Regions from separate parts of the Homo sapiens genome. Here region 1 is linked to region 2. The links come from fine-mapping of genetic effects on gene expression. Tissue or cell type: whole blood. Region 2 holds a variant in brackets; the other region holds the start of a gene. All regions are shown on one strand. Distances are between the middles of the regions. Region 1 holds the start of FUT8-AS1 (FUT8 antisense RNA 1). Region 2 holds the start of MIR4708 (microRNA 4708).

The links.
Region 1: FUT8-AS1 starts here. The variant in region 2 is fine-mapped to the expression of FUT8-AS1 in whole blood (TOPMed, PIP above 0.99).

The regions. Positions count from the first base shown.
Region 1 is chr14:65,407,613-65,416,288 of GRCh38, forward strand. It overlaps FUT8-AS1 (FUT8 antisense RNA 1), which reads right to left and starts at 5,005. Exons shown (of 1, transcript NR_024334.1): 1 at 2,980-5,005. FUT8 (fucosyltransferase 8) reads left to right here and starts at 5,118. Exons shown (of 11, transcript NM_001371533.1): 1 at 5,118-5,602. RefSeq lists enhancers at 4,297-4,616, 5,859-6,423 and silencers at 5,157-5,316, 5,617-5,736, 5,747-5,936.
Region 2 is chr14:65,330,188-65,338,863 of GRCh38, forward strand. MIR4708 (microRNA 4708) reads right to left here and starts at 4,996; the gene lies at 4,930-4,996. RefSeq lists enhancers at 371-981, 5,935-6,034, 6,095-6,244. The variant G/A (reference allele first, on the strand shown) is at 4,119.

The sequences.
Region 1 (8,676 bases), 77 kb after region 2:
GTTTTAGTGCTTCTTGAGACATATCTGTGTTAGGAACTGAGATGAAATTAAAGATATACAAGATAGAGTTTTTGCTTACAGTGTTATGGTGGGAACAAACAAACATAATTATTATTTTGTAGAATTAATAGTCCAGGAAAGAATAGTTTTCAGGAGTGGTATGACCACAGCTCAATCAAATCTGCAAGGGTTTTCTATCTGTCTGCCATCGCCAGTAGGTTGACTTCATTTTCAGGTTAGTTCCTCTTGCAAGATTGCTGCCAATGGCAATCTGGGTTACAGGTTGACTTGCTCATATCTGGCAGGAAAGAGAGAACTCCTTCCCCCAGATATGGACTGAAAATCCTTTCCTTCAGTCTGATTGGGCCAGTTTATCCTGGTCCTAATGGTTTTCAAGTGTATCAATTAGAATAGTCTAGGACTATTCTAATTCTAGCATATTCTAGTCTAGCATAACCTAGATGCTAGGTCATACTGCATTGAAAAATGCCCCCAAATCTCAGTGGCTTAAACTACAAAGGTGTATTTCTTATTAAAACCAGATGAAAATGGGAGGCAGGCTGCTCTACCTTGTCCTTTTTTTTGGAAGTTAAGCCGAGAGAGGCTTTACCGATACTTTCAAGATAATACTGGTCTTGAGTCTGGAGAAGAGTAAACACTGTAAGGACTTACGCTGGCCATGAACTGTTCTACCTGGAATTGACACATACCACTTCTGCCCACAACCCACTACAGACTGGTGGCTATAGCTAGTCAGTCACATGGTCCAGCCCAACTGCAAGGGGAGGAGGGTATCTGGGGGTGGGTGTGGAAAAATATAATCTTTTTGTATGTCTGGAAAGAGAGAGTAAGCATGATAAATCTCCTACCATATTAGGGAACCCATTTATTGGCTAATTGAGTTGCCTTTCTGTAGTTGGAGTTTTGGGTGGTTACCTAAAGAATTGGCAGATGAAAACAAAAATAAACAGCCCTATTAATAAGGAAGGACGGGAGTGAATGTTCAATTAGAAATCAATAGTGTGAACTATATGCTGCTTTATCCCAGTGGAGAAGACAGAAATTTCAGCCATGGAGGCAAGTCATAGGGAGGGATAGTCTGGCTAGTTTCATCAGTCTTTAAATCAATCACTTCATTTACTCTTGTAATGGGAAAGATTTGCTCTGGCTTTTTAATGAGTAGGTATAGAGTTTGTTTAAGGAGCTGGCTCAAAAGTGACTTAAAACACATTGAATTTGAAAATATAGATTCTTAGCTACTCAGGAGGCTGAGGCAAGAGTACAGCTTGAGGCCAGGAGTTCAAGACGAGCCTTGGCAACATTCTGCGACCTTGTCTCTAAAAAATAAAAATGAAAATATAGACTTTTTTTCCCTATATTTCATTTTTGTAGTTATTGTCAATGGTGTGTCAAGTTGGCTAGATTTATAGTTTTAGAACTGACGAACAACTAAAACTTACCTAGTCCAACCCTTTTATTTTACAAATGAGAAAACTGAGGCCCAGATGGGTAAAATGATTATCTCAAGGTCACCCCTTCTTGCTCTTGGCAATAACAATGCTGCCCTTTGGATGACTTCCTGGAAAATCGGATCCTGTAAGTGAAATGTAGCTAGAGCAACAATTATAAAACAACGAGAACAATTAACAATTATTCAGAATGCTTCCATGGCTGACAGTCAGTTGGTACACGTTGGTAGAGATAGAAAAATTTCTAAACTATTTGGTAAGTAGCTTATGCTAAGCCTTCTGAGTGCCTCAACCCCTTGCTGGAACTCCACAGATCTCCCCACCGTAATAACAGGATCCACCTCAAAGGTTTGATTTGAGAATTAAATGGTGGAGGTAAAGAGTTTTGCATGAGGCCTGGTGCTCAGCACTATTACACTTTGGCTATTATTTTTATTACAGTCATAATAAAATGGTAGTAAATTTCAAACCAGTTTCTACATGAATGTTCACAACTTAGGAAATGTGATAGCATTCACGTTCATTAACTTTGATCTAGCTAATCTCTCAATAAAATGGCCACTCATGTACTCACTTTAACTTTCATTTTGATCTTTTCCATAGTCTAAGGGTTGACTCCTTCTTGCCCCGGGACACCCGAGTCCCCATAGCTCTAGCTGATGGTTAAGAATTTGACCGAGGCTATATACAAGAAAACAATGCACTGACAAGGCCCTGTTACTTGTTGTATAACAGATCATAACGATTGTTCTGTCTAATCTTTTGTTGAACAGAACTTGTCTTTAACTTTTGGGATAAGCAAAGATGGGTCCAAAACCTAGTTTGGTGAGGGAGGGGTGGAGTAAGAGGTGGAGTACCTGTACTTACTTAAGCAACTATTACAAACTGGCAGTGATGAGCAGCAGAGGCAAGCAGTTGGGAGAAGAGAATGAGAGAGCGCAGCAACAGGGTGGGACCTGCAGCTTGTGGAAAAATGCTTTTGACACAGATACTTTCTGATGGCCAGTGATGTTTAGAACCTTTTGGGGGATTCCTTCTCTCTCAGAATTTAACCTGGCAAGAGAACGACTGAGTTCTAGGAATTTTCTTGTCTGGAGAGAGTAAAATAAATGTATTTTTTAAAAGCTGGGACTGTTATCCACACTGAGAAGAGGCAGGGTATAAAATTCCCTTTCATAAGTGAATTTCCTGGAAATTCATGATTGGCTTGGAACTTAATGTGTAAAGACTTGTTCTCAAATATCAGTTGTTTGACAGAGACCTCCAGTTTTGGGATGGCAGCTAAATCCTGAGCCTGCCTTGGAAAGGGTTTTGATAATAATGTTCCATCACAGGTGGAGAAGCACATTGATTCAACAAAGCAGACTTCAAAACCACTGAAGAATTAGTTTCTGAGTGTATTCAAGAGATACCAAAGTTATTTGTTATTTTAACGTATATTATACTGTTCTATACAAATGCACCAAATCCTGGGCAAAACATTCCTAGGACAGGTTTTTTTTTTTTTTTTTTTCAGTTGGAAGGAGGTAGGGAAAATAAGTGCTTTAATTCCTAGGATTTTGGAAGTAAAAATGGAACACCAGACAAAAATGGAATTTTTAGGCAAATGTAAAGCTTTGTACTTGGGTATCTCAAAGTATTATACAGTGTAAACTATCATGATTATTAACCAACTAGAAGTAGTTCTTTTTTTTAAATTTTATTTTTAATTTTAGACATGAGGGTCTTGCTATGTTGCCCAGGCTGAAGTGGCTACTGACAGGCACGATGTGGCACTGCAGCCTGGAACTCTTGGGCTTAAGTGATCCTTCCTGCTTCTTCTATCTTAAAAAAAAAAAGTTACGCTTGCTTGTTAAAATATTTTTAAAATGCTGTGTTTAAACTAAGAAGTAAATATCCACCCCACCTCTGACTTCTAAAAATTATCTAAAGTATGACTGGTAAGATTTTTACCTTTAATCCCACATAAGTCTAAAATTTGTGTTCATTTCCAACAACCAAAGTGTGTCACTTTTATACCAGAATTTTGTCCTGCTTATACGTTTAGTACAGAAATCTCATGGGAGAGAGCATCCATGCATTTACAAATTGTTATTGAATTATTTTATTGAATGATGACACCCAAACTGAGCTAGAACATAATTCTGGCTCTGCTAGTACATCTTCTGTGTGATCTTGGACAAGTCACTCTACTTTCCTTTCAATTTTCTTTTCTCACAGGGAGATAATCATAAAAACGACTGTAAAGTACAGCACTTCATAGAGTGCTTTTTGTTTAAAGAGCTGACAATAAATACGAGTCTCAAGGTCTAGGAAAGCCTCCCTCACAACCTGAGCTGCTTGAGGACAAGGGATTTTCTTTTGAATCAGCAGTACCTTATTTGTGTATCTGTGATAGAGTTCCTGGTACATAAGAAGGTCTCAATAAATATGTGAATTTATGAATATTAGGCAGATTGCAACCTTGACAGGCCACTGCCTCTTAAATCTCCTTTCTGTGATCTTTTAATATTTAACATCTAAAAGGCCGCCGCTACTTGCTTTGGGATAAGTATCCCCGGTATGTACTTTAAAATGCCCAAGCCTAGAGAAATGATTCTTGTCTTAAGGGCACCATTTCGCTCTCCCACCGTAAAGCGCCCCAGGCTTGGGATCTGGGTCCCAAGGCTACAGGGAAGAGTTTGGAACGGGAAGCTCATCTTCCGGCCCTCTGATTGGCCGGCTCGCACTCCACTCACGCGGCGCGCAGCTCTGATTGGCCTCGGCGGCACCCCTCGTCCCGCGACTACTTTGTGTGCTGGGGCGGCGCGCTCCGGTCCTCCCGCTCAGCTGGCGGTCTGGGCTGCTCTGGGGCAGCCCTTCGGTCCACTGCTCTGCATCGCGGGCGCCGGGAATTTTCCGAGTCCGAGCGGGTAGGACGCATCCTAGGGCAAAGCCTCTCCCCTCTCCCCGTGCTGTTCTCTTTCCCGTACTAAATAAACTTCCGCCTCAGAGGGGCTGTCGCAGCCGCGGGTCGGGAGAGGCCGGGCATCGAACTCAGGCCCTCGTGGGGGGGGTCTTTCTCTTCGAGTGAATGTGGAAACAGCTCTTACAAGATAAAGTAGGGCTTCGCTGAGTCTCCTGGGGGAGCGATGCCATTGTAGGATCGCGCTGGAAGCAGCAGTCAAGCGGCCAAATGCGGGCTGCAGGGGCTGAGCAGCAGCAGCGCGCACCCCTAAAAGTAGCAAGGAGCCAGCTTCAAAACCTCTAGTGCGGGTGCCCCCTAGGGCCGCCGACTGAGCTGGCACGGGCCGGTCCATTCCCGGCGCTGTAGGGAGCACAGCATTCTCTGGAGGCGAGTCTCCTCCCGGGATCCAGGATCCGCTCGCGCCCCGCTCAGCCTCCGGCCTTCAGGCGGTAGAGGGCGGCCTACGCCTGTGTGCGAGCCGGAGCCGGCGTGCGCAGCCGCTGCCCTGCTGGAACTGTGCCGTCCCGCTGTGGCCCGCGGCTCTGCTAGGCGGTGGATGCTGCTGCTACGCTCTCCACCGGCGCAGCGAGGAAGGGGGCGGGGAGAATCCCTGGCACATGCCAGGGTCGCCGTAGGTGGCAGCGGCCGGCGCATGCGCGCCCTCTCCCAGAAGCCAGGAACGCCGAGGGGCGCGCTCCCCCATTCGCGCGCGCACGCCGGCGCTGGCCGAGGCTTCCCCGCCTGCGCTCGTTGTCAGAGCCGCTCCGGCGCGTGCGCGCGTTATCTCCGGCCGACCCGAGCAGCCGGTTCCCTCCTCTCCAGGCCCCCTCCCCATCCCACCCCCGCCGCCTGGCCCCAGCCGACCCGTCCCTTCGTCTCCCCGCGGAATGGGGCCGGCACTGCTCAGGGTCGCGCGCCCTGGACCCAGCTCGCTCTCGGTCTCGCGCTGTCAGCGACTGCCCGGCTCGCGCCGCCTCGCGCTCTGCCTCAGTCAGTGGCGCCGAAGGCTCCGTTAAGCGGCGGCGGCGGTTCCTGTTTCCGTTTCTTCCTCTCCGTTCGGTCGGGAGTAGCATCCTCCACTCAGCCACCCTTCCCACTCCCCCATCGTGGGGCAGCTGCGGCTGAGGGCTGTGGCTTTGGCAGCTGCGACGGGGAGCGGCGGAGACCGCCTCTGCTCCCGCCTGGGGTAAGGGGGCGTTTTGGGAGCCGGGCCCCGCGCGCCTCGGGGTCTTGGGCTGGGCTGCGCGCGGGATCTGAGGAGGCTCCGCGGCTGTCCCTGCTCGTTCACCCGGGCCTGTTGCTGCAACTGCTGCCGGTTAACCAGCGGCTCTCGGAAAAGTGGGGAGGGAGCCCCCGGGACGCTCTGGCGGATGCCTTGGCGCAGCCCCGGGGGCGCGGGCAGAGGGTGAGGGGCGCCCGCCTCTCCAGCCGGGACGCGGAGCTGCGCCGCTGCTGCCCTCGGCGTCGCGCATCCTTGCCTAGGGCAGGGGCCAAAGCCTAGGGAAGGAGAAGGGTTGGGGGCGGGGGTGGGAGGTGTCCGTCGTTTCCCCTCCACACCTACCTTCCCTTCGTCAGCAGCTCGGTCCCTGGAGTCGCGGTTTGTGGGGAGGAAGATGCCCGTGCGTTATGGGCTCTTTCTGAGTGCTGCTCGGGCTAGAAAGCAGGGAGTGGACCCTCACAAAGATCCGCGAGGGACTGATGCAGGGCAGTTAAAGGCTTGAGTGCAGCTGTACTCCCTTTTGATGTGCAAATGACGAGCTGGCGGCTTTTGAGTATCAACTTATTTGGGAAGGTTAAATGAGTCCATATTTATCAGTTCTAGGAGGTTTGTCCTGCAGGATTGAGTGGGTTGTCGGGTGCAGCACCTGTTCTTTCTTCACAGTGGGGATTGCAATCTTCAGAGACGCAGTGTATTTCTTAAGTGGCAGTGTCATGCTTAGGGTTTGTCCCGGATGAGCTTTTATTTTAGCATTTTGCCATATAATATATAGATTGAGGCCTTGGTTAAAGGCACGGACAGGTGGTGTTTTTTTCCTTCCTATGTTTTAATTATTCACAGTTTATTTAAACCCACTCAGGAAGGTGGACCCAGAAAAGCCAAATTCTGTAGTACATAACCCCAAATTTCAAGGTTTTGCGGAACAAATTCAACACAAGTTTTGTGTCAGTTTAGAGTTAAACGCATCTCAAGTAACTGACTTAACTGGCTTGCCTCTATGAAAACTGTAGGCAGGTTTCATTATAGATTTTTTTTTTCTTGTTATTCCGGCGGTTAGGTGCATGTTTATTTTCTTGATTAAATTTACATTCTATGTTTTATGACTAATTCTTTAAATAGGTGCATCATATAGAAAGTATTTTAGGAGAGAAATTATTATTTAAGCACTACAGTATATCAGATATATGAGAAATAATGGAGTTGTAGTCTCTGCTCTTTAAAATAACTGTAAAAACATCTTAAAACCCTATGCCAAATAATAAGGCCCTGTACCTTGCTGTCCTTGTGAAATCTGGTATGTGTATAGAAAATCTTAATTACTTGATTTGTAAATACTACAGTAGTATTGAAAAGGTGGGAATTCAAGCATTTGTAATTGTGATTTCACAGGTTTAGTGTGTAAAAAATGCAGGGAGTTAGAGATGAATAGGCTATAAGACACGTACAAAGGTAGTTCCAAGACATGGATTTTCTTTTTGCTGCCTTATAAATTGAGAATTCTATTTGAATTCAAGAGCTGAACAGCTGGAATGAAACTTGCATAGATTGCAGAAACAGATGCAAAAATGTATCTTTGGTCAAGTTGTGAGTTAACTTGAAGAGTGTCTTGTGTAATAGGATAGTGATTCAAAATAATTTCCATAAAGTACGGCCTTATATAGGTTATATTTTGAGGATATTTTTGAATTTAAAAAGTCACCTGAAGTTGTTTTCCTACAAATCAGTTCTGTTTAAGATGTATGGAATCGAAAAAAACAAAACAAAACTAATTCTGATTACATCCTGCATTGTTTTGTTGCAAATTCTTACCAGTTATTTTTACGCAATTGGAGTGTCCTTAAAAGTGGTGAATCTTAAAATTTGCCAGTGGATTGGAAAAAACTGTTAACTTATTATTTTTAAAAATGCTGTTATATTAGTACATTGGTCTGGAGGGGGAGCTAGTGCCAAAGCAAAGTATAGCTTAATAGCTGTTTGAACTTTTAAAACACCCAAAACCAGATTTTTATGACCAAAAGAAACATAAATTTTTAATTAAAAGAGTAGGAAATTGATGTGGGCATATATATGTACATAGTTATTTGTGGAGTGAATATATTGTGTATTACAAATTAGTTTAAAAAAGTCTTTTCATGCGCTGCAATAATGGAAAGCTAAATGCTTAAAGATTTATTGGATTTCTCACTTAAAAATCTCTAAAATGTACCCCCAAACTTAGAGTATGTTATAGTATTTTCTTAACCTTCTTGTCCTGTTCATCAGAATCTAAGGCATGTATTCTTGACCCATTGTACATGTTGTGTGTTCTTAAATTTTGTTTTTATAATAGCTACAATCCTAAAATTTCAAAAACGAAGCTTCAAGTAGAATCTTATATGGGCGAAGGTATTAATTGTGTGGTAAGCTAGGTATTTATCAAAAGTAGATATAATTCCTTTTTTTTTTTTTTTTAAAGTAGAGATAATTCCAATAAAAAAATGGACCTTTTAGACATCTGGAGAACAATATCCCCAGGTCACTTAACCCTTATCTCCTGCAGTATAATGCAGTGCGTCCAGCTGATCTACCAAATTGAATGTGTGCCTTTGAATACGAAGCAGTTGTTTTGTGGCCTGTGGCATTTCATTTAGGTTTCTAAGCTGTAATAAATTAGTATGTTAATTTACTTCTTTCCATTCACATATTCTTTAAATCCAAGCCTAGAAACTGATAGTTATATGTATATTAAAATCATTGGAATATTGGTTTTTTTGCAGATAGTGTTTGGGCTGTTTATTATCCATAGCTCTTCATTATGTAAATAGAATCTCAATGCTGATAAAGTAAATAGATTCTTCCATTTCATTAATGGTTATTTTTGATTTATGATAAACTGCATTTAATAAATCTCTTGATTTAGTTAAATGGTGGATACATCATTTCATATTATAGCAAATTGATAAATATAAAAGAAAGTTTTACAATCATAAGAGTAAATATTTAAAAAAACTTGAATAAGTTACTTTACTAAACATAAAATTAAGATTTTTAAACAACTCTGA
Region 2 (8,676 bases):
TTCCTCAAGGCTTATCTTGTGTTCTACTTGCCAGCCAGAGTTCCCTCTCTGCTAAAATAATTCACCCTGGGAAGATGATAGGGGCCTTCCTTGGAGACCACACATCTCTCCAGTCTAGATAACCCTACGAAAGTATCTAGGGGCTGGTAATCTTGCATGGAGGAGTGGGGAGAGTTCTTTCAGACCGTTCTTATTTGGTTCAAAATAACGATTTAGGGCCAAAGAGTTCCTGAATGCTCAAAAAGTATTTTCTCTCAAATCTAGGTCTTGTGTTCAGCAATCTCATTTGAATCTCAAAAGTTAACCACTGACTTTCTTTTTCTTGGCATTCCAGCTATGATAACCTCACTTTTCCCTGGGGCAGGGCATGCCTGGGTCTGCAGAGCAGTAGAATGTGGTGAAGTGTGTTTTGTTGATGGTAGAAGGGAGGACCTGTTTAATGTCTCAAAATACCTTCTGGAGTTGCAATGTTCCAGCCTCTATTTTTATGCTAAGTACCTTAAACCCATGTAATCTTCAGAACAATCTCAAGAACTAAGTATAATCATTCCAACGCAGATGAGGAAATGAAAATTCAAAGGGAGAATGGGGAATTTGTTAAAAGATTCCAGTTGTAAGTGGTGGCAAAATAATGAACCTAGGATAACCTGATTCCAAAGTCTTCATTTTAAACCCCAACAGTGAGGCTGGGCACAGTGGCTCAAGCCTGTAATCCCAGAAATTTGGGAGGCCAAGGCAGAATCACTTGAGGCCAGGAGTTCTAGACCAGTCTGGGCAACATGGTGAGACTCTGTCTCTACAAAAAACAAAAAAATCAGCTGGGCATGGTGGTGTGTACATGTAGTCCTAGCTACTTGGGAGGCTGTGGCAGAAGGATCACTTGAGCCCAGGAAGTTGAGGCTGCAGTGAGCCATGACAGTGCCACTACAATCCAGCCTGGGTAACAGAGGGATCTTGTCTCTAAATAAATAAATAACCCCCAACAGTGGCCTCATATCTTGTCCAACAACTAACTCTCTAGGAGATTTGTTAAAAATAATTTTGATATGCCAGGTTCTCGCCTGTAATCCCAGCACTTTGGGAGGCCAAGGCAGGTTGATCACTTGAGGTCAGGAGTTTGAGACCAGCTTGGCCAACATGGTGAAACCCTGTCTCCACTAAAATACAAAAATTAGCCGGGTATGGTGGTGCGTGCCTGTCATCCCAGCTACTCAGGAGGCTGAGGCAGGACAATCGCTTGAACCCAAGAGGTGGAGGGTTGCAGTGAGCTGAGATCACGCCACTGCGCTCCAGCCTGGGTGACAGAGTGAGCCTCCATCTCAATAATAATAATAATAATAATAATAATAATAATAATAATAATTTTGATAAAGATCCACTCCAGGAGATCCTGATCCAGTTGGTCTCGGTTAGAGCCTGGTCATTAGTATTTTGAACAGTGTCAACCTTGTGAAAGGAAAATAAATCTTTGGACCCCCCCAAAGAGAAAAGTCAAGCTGGGAGCTGCTTAGGGCAAACATGCCTCCCATTCTATTCCTTAAAGGAGATAGCTACTAAGATAAAAAAGCTATATACCTGCCTCACAATTTGTCTACAAGGAAATTCCTTTTGGACAAAGGACAAACAGAACGCAAAGTCATCCCTCTGCTCACTGAGATAAATGCATATCTGATTGCTTCTTTTGGAAAGGGTAATTGGAAACTCAAAAGAATGTTTGTCTATCTATGACCTGGAGGCCCCCTCCCTGCTTCAAGTTGTCCCACCTTTCTGATTGAACCAATGTACATCTTACATATATTGATTGACGTCTTATGTCTTCCTAAAATGTATGAAACCAAGCTGTGCCCCGACCACCTTGGGCACATGTCATGGGACTTCCTGAGGCTGTGTCACGGGTGCATCCTTAACCTTGAAAAAATAAAGTTTCTAAATTGAGACCTGTCTCAGATATTTGGGGTTCACAACCTAAATTAATGAGATTCTGAAGAGATGATTAAATATAGAGTTTGTAACCATAATCGTTTCATTGCCCAATGTGCATAGCAAGTCAATACGCTGAAACACCTAGTTGCAAGAGAGAAAGAGGTTTAATTGTAGGGCAGCTGAATGTGATGGGAGGAAACCTCAAATCAGTCTCTCCAAGGAATTTGGGTCTAGAATTTTTAGTGATTTTGGAGTGGGCTGAAGTGTGGAGATCTTTGCTTGGCCCAAGGGTGCAGGATGAAGTCATAGAACAGGGAGATGAAGAAACTATATTCTCATGCTGATTCTGCTCTCCTCTGGGGGTCTTCAAACTTGTTGGCATCAGCTCAAATTTGGGATCTGAAAAACATCTTAAGCAATTCTTAAACAAAAGCCTTATGATTCTAATGTCAGAGATTCTATCTATCTTAATCAGAGGCCTGATGATTCTAACCTCAGACAGAAATACTATCTGTAGGAACAATGAGGATGCAAGTGGTCAGGATCTAGTACTCCACAACTTTCACTTCCTGTTGTTACAAGGAAGTGAGCCACAGTGCAGCCTAATTAATGCTTAATCATAACTATATTTCTGTCCAGAATTCTTGTTAACATGGTGAAGATGGCTTCAAGTTTATTCAAGCTCAAAGCTTGAGGGTGGCCACCCAAGAGCATAGATTCAAGTTGCCCTAAACCCACACTCTGATTAGAAATAGCTACAAGAGGATTTTTAAGGAATAAAGAAGAGGCAGCTCCTAAATTGTTTACCAAGAATTTATACTAAAATAACATAAGCTATTGATTGGGTATGTGTTATTCTTTGCATCACAAATTCCAACATGAAGATAATGGGTAAGGCAGTTAAGCAGGAACAAAATGCCTTTACACAGTTGCCCTGGACATGGGCGCAGAGATGTGACTGAAGTCCCATACTCCTGTCTCTCCAGGCTTGATAAATTTTGTATACTTCACATAGCTCAGACTGATCTGAGCTATTTTTCTTTCTCAGCGGAGTCTCCGTAGTCTCCGTAATTCAGAGGCACACCAAAATTTGAAAGCCAGCTCTACCACTGACTAATTGTGTGATTTTGGACAAATTAGTTCATCTCCTAGTATCTCAGTTTCCTCATTTGCTAAATGGGGAAAATAACAGCTCCAACATCATTGAGCTGTTGTGGAAATTAAATTAATTTAAAATGAAAGCACTTGGAAGAGTACTTGGCACATAATAAATGCTCAATAAGTGTTAAAGATTGCTACTTTTCCTGTCCCTTAGCAACTAAAAAATATCTTTTAAGGAGCGCCATTTCCTGGACATACTACAAAAAAGGGGAATTGCCTGCATTTACATAGATTTTTTGATAGTTGATGTCTCTGAGAGCAATATTCTTTTAGCCCCTTCTCTAAATCCAGGTTTATGCCTAATTTAGATCCCACGGTCTCCTGTGGTCCTAACCACCTTGTGAACATGTTATGAAGGTAAATTGAAGTTAATCTAGGGATGGAATGATGAGAGCAGGTAAAAGATAAATAGTTCAATGGTTCTCAACCTTGGCTATACCTTATAATTATCTGGAGAGCTTTAAACAATGCCCAAGTCAGCTGGGCATGGTTGCTCACGCCTATAATCCCAGCTCTTTGGGAGGCTGAGTCAGGAGGACTGCTTGAGGCCAGGAGTTTGAGACCAGCTAGGCAACATGGTAAGACCCCCTCTCTATTATATATTAAAAATAATTTTTAAAAAATGCCTAAGTCACACCCCAGACCAATTAATATCAGAATCTGTGGGAACAGGGCTCAGCTATCAGTCTATTTTAATCTCCAGATGATTCCAGTGTGTAGCCACTGGCCTCATCTTAGCTCGGCTGAGCTGGTGAGACCCAGTAATCTGTATTCTAACAAGCCTTCTGCAAATCTCAGGACCTTTGGTGTGAACCATCCCATCATCCTCCCAATGTCCAGGCCTCTGATTTCACTTCTCTGCCCAGTGGGTGTGACTTGAAAGCAAGAGAGGAGGTGCAACAACCCTTAGTTTCTGTAAGAAGGTACAAGGAGACCAGTTCTGTATATCAAATCCTGGTTTATTCTAGCCAGACCTGTCTTAGGGACAATGATGGTCTTTCAGCCTAAATGCTTGCTTCTCAGGAAGCAGGTGA[G/A]CCAATGAAGGGCCCCACTCTCTCCAAGTGGAGACTATAGCATTTGCCTAAAATACCCCTTCTCTCCAGTCCTAACTGTCCTGGAAGCTTCTCAGAGGCCAAATATGTAAACAAGTTCCAAACCAACACATCTGCTTTTCATTTCCTGCGGAATGCTAAAACGAGTCTTTTAAGGTTGCTTAAAATATGTTCTCTCCTCCCGCCCCACCCCCCAGGGCATTTGCTGTGCGTCCTCAGACCACCTCAGCTCCTCCTTCCCTACACCTGGGACTCTTCTGCGCAGACTTGGCTTCAAACAAGGCTCACGGTTCTTCCTGGCATTTGCTTTTTTGGCTTAGCGAGTGCACATTCAATATCTTTTTCTTCTTTTTCTTGAAAGCACTGTCTTCAGTCTCCTCACTTGTCCCTTTCTCCTCTGGCAAGCGTAATGCTATCAACATTTGAAAGTGGCCTGATTCCCTGGTGTCTGGTAAATGGCCTTGCTGGTGAACTTCTTTAGGAGAACTGCAAAGAAACTAGAGCAGGGGCTAAAGAGAGCTGCTCTCTTGGGGCTCAGATGCCCCTCCTGGGGCCCCACCTCACACTAGGTGGGTTTCCTTCCTAAATTTGAGCAACGACTCTGTGTGACCTTAGCCACCCTTAACTTTGCTCTGCTTCTGTTTAGCATCTGTTAAGGAGTGACCTTTGCCACCAATTAATGAGGGTGAGGCCCCATTCAGTTGCAAAGAACGTGGAATTGTAAACAAACTTGCAAGTGGAAAGACTAGTTCCAGGGGAAATGTAGGTAAGAAAGGTGCTCCCGTATTCTCCTTTTAGTATCAGAGAGATGCCGCCTTGCTCCTCCTGTTCAAGGAGCAAGGCGGCATCTCTCTCCTAAATATGCTGTTGTGTCTCATACCTCAGCTTCTCAGGGCCCTGCCAAGAGCGGGTAGGTAACATAACAACAGCTGTTACTGCCCCAATGTATCCTCCCTCCAAATGTCAACAACATACACTTTGGAGTGGCCTCTTTATGTTAAGGCCTTGAGCTTTAAGACTCAGCTCTGGCCTTTAAGAATCGTATGTTCCCGTTGAAGAGACAGGATGTGTGTAAAGATAGCAGCTAGAGACCATGCCCAACAGATAACAAACATTAAGGGAATACATAAGTATTGAACAAATATATATGGAGCACTAATTATGTTTTGTTGTAAGCTCTGAGGCTAAAGTGTTATAGGACTTTCTCCTTAGTTCAACTAAAAGCCGGATTCTTGTCACACAGCCATGAGAGATTAGGCTTGCAGACACTTTGAAGGGTGAGAAGAATGGAACTTATTGGGCAAAAAGGAAAATAAATGGAAACAGGGACTCTCAGCAAAGTGAGAGTCCTGCTTGCTGGTTTTTCCTGCCTCACTGATTGAATCCCATGTACTACCCTGGATCAGGAGAGGCCAGGCTCCTTCCTGCTGCAAAGGGTGTGAACTTCTGCAGCTCCACCCTGTTCTCCCAGTGCGCAGGCCAGTCGGAGTTTCTCAGGGGACCCCTTTACACTTGGCTGTCTCAAAAAACAGGGAGCAAAACAGATAAAACCCCTGGCTTTATGGATCTTATGTTCCTTATATATATATATGTATAAGGAACACACGTATATATGTGTATATATGTATATATATATTTTTAGGTTCTGGAATAAATGTGCACAACATGCAGCTTTGTTACATAGGTATATACATGCCATGGTGGTTTGCTGCACCCATCAACCCGTCATCTACATTAGGTATTTCTCCTAATGCTATCCCTCCCCTATTCCCCCACCCCCTAGATCTTATGTTCTAATGAGACAAGACATACTTTGAGAGGCCAAGATGAGTGTCAGCAAATAAATATGTATAATACACCAGCTTCTGGGAAGTACTTTGAAGGAAAATGAAGCAGATTAAGGAGGGTAGAGTGACATGGTTAAGAGAATGTGGTTTTTTAGATGGGAGATCAGAGAAGACCTCTCTGGTAAGGAGACATTTGAGTCAAAATCTGAAGAAGGAGGGAGTGAGTCATCTGAGTCTGTGAAGAATTTTCTAAGCAAGGCGAGCAGCAAGCACGAAGGCTCTCAGGAAGGAGTGTGCTTGGTGAGTTCTAAGAACAAGCAGGCCAGTGTAGCTGGAAAGTAGTGAGCAGGAGACTGTGGGCAGGAGAGGACATGAGAGAGGTGACAGAGTGGATCACTGAGGACCCTGCAAGTGGTGGTAAGGACTTTAGATTTTGTTTTGAAGCCATTGGAGGGCTTTGAGTAGAGCAGTGACATGATTGGACTCACACCTTGGAAGGATCACTCTGAGCATGGACTCCAAGAGTGCACAAGGAGAAGTGTGAGGCCAGTGAGAAGGGTGCTGCAATAATCCGGGATGAGATGAAGATGATGGTGGCTTGGACCAGAGAGAAGAGACTAAGGGTGGTGAGATGAGATTAGATTCTGATATATAATGAAGGTAGAGTAGACAAGATAGATGAGATATAGGGTTATGATTTATGACATAAAGAGAGAAATCAGGAATGATTCCAGTGTTTTTGGCCGATACTCAAGGTTTTAAATTTATAGCAGGGATGGGCTGCTTCTGGTTAAGATAATAAGGGAAAGATTAATGAAAGACCCAAGATTTGAGCTGCACTTTGAAAAACTAGTAGGATTTTGTGACTTATAAAAAGTCTCAAGGGCTTATTTTGAGACCATTTTATCTCCTGGAGTGCAGCCTCCTACCCTAGTTCCACTTCTTTCAGTTATATCAACCAGGAGCTCTGGGATGCGGGACTCAGCCAGCCCAAGGAAGGTGAATCTGGATTCTTTAGGCCAATCATGAAAATTTTCTACTCTTGCCAGTAACTGGTTTAGAAATGGGCTGGTTTAAGAATGGGAATGTACTGGCCTGGGCATGGTGGCTCATACCTGTAATTCCCATACTTTGAGAAGCCAAGATGAGAGGATTGCTTGAGTCCAGGAGTTTGAGACCAGCCTGGACAATATAGTGAGCCCTCCTCTCTACAAAAATAAAAAATAAAATTAGCAGGGCACGGTGGTGCGTACCTTTAGTCCCAACTACTCAGGAGGCTGAGGTGGGAGAATTGCTTGAGCTCAGGTGTTTGACACTGCAGTGAGCCATGATTGAGCCACTGCACTCTAGCCTGGACCACAGAGTGAGACCCTGTCTCAAAATAAATAAAATAAAATAAAATAAAATAAATAAGGCATATGCTATAGTTCTGGACAATGGAACATAAAAGGAAACTGCAGAAGGGACGTCTGGGAAAATCTCTAAGTCTTCAAAAGGAAGCAAGGTACTCTGGCCTTGAGATGTTGTTAAGGACATAGAGCTTGAACTGCTATTGCCATCTTGCAAACATAAAGAGGAAGGTAAAGGCAACAGCTGCAGAGTGGCAGAGAGAAAAGGTGGACAAGCATGGTTCCTTGAGAACATTGCTGAGCTATGGAATTACCCAACCCTGGAACTGCACAACTTCTGAATTTTTTTTTTTTTTTTTTGAGACAGAGTCTTGCTCTGTCGCCCAGGCTGGAGTGCAGTGGTGTGATCTTGGCTCACTGCAAGCTCTGCCTCCCGGGTTCACGCCATTCTCCTGCCTCAGCCTCCCAAGTAGCTGGGTCTACAGGCGCCTGCCCCCATGCCCAGCTAATTTTTTGTATTTTTAGTAGAGATGGGGTTTCACCATGTTAGCCAGGATGGTCTCCATCTCCTGACCTCGTGATCTGCCCACCTCAGCCTCCCAAAGTGCTGGGATTACAGGCGTGAGCCACCGTGCCCGGCCCTGAATTTCTTTTGTAAGATTAAAAAAAAAATCTTATCATGAAATGCTTTTGAGTTGGGCAGTTTCTACTTGAAGCTCAAAGTACATCGTTTTAGATAAGCAATAAAGATTCTGGTTAGAAGAGGGCAAAAACAAACACTTTGAGGCAAGACTTTCTTGGAGACAAGAAAGCTCAAAGCGTATTTGGGGAGGATTGGTGGAATAGCTTGACATTCATTCATAAATTCATTCACTAAGTATTTGTTGACGCCTACTGTGTGCCAGGCACTGTTCTAAGATCTAGTATTCTGCAGGAAACAAGATTGACAGGGTACCTCTTATGGAGTTTATTACCTTGTGGAGGAAAGAGGGGTGCATGTGGACAGTGGCTACTGTATTGAACAGCACAGGCATAGGGTCTGGGAAGGCCTAATTCAGGGAAAGCATGAAAGGATGAAACTGTGAGTTTTGGCAATGGCTTTAGGCTTCTGCTGCTCTGCTCTCGATTCATTCTCCAAAGAGATTTATTAGGTCAAAGGGCATAAATATTTTTAGGACTTAAAATTACTTTCCTAATTGGTTACATCAATTTATGGTACTACCCAAGGAATACAGGTCCTGATATTACTGGGTTTGGATTTAGGGATTTCCATTTTAATTTGGTAGGGATTAATTTAGTAAAGGAGTTCATTTAATAAAGTTAATTTAATTAATTTAGTGAAAAAATACCATGCTTCTTTTAATTTGCTTCTTTTTGATAATTAGTAAAATTGACTACTTTTGT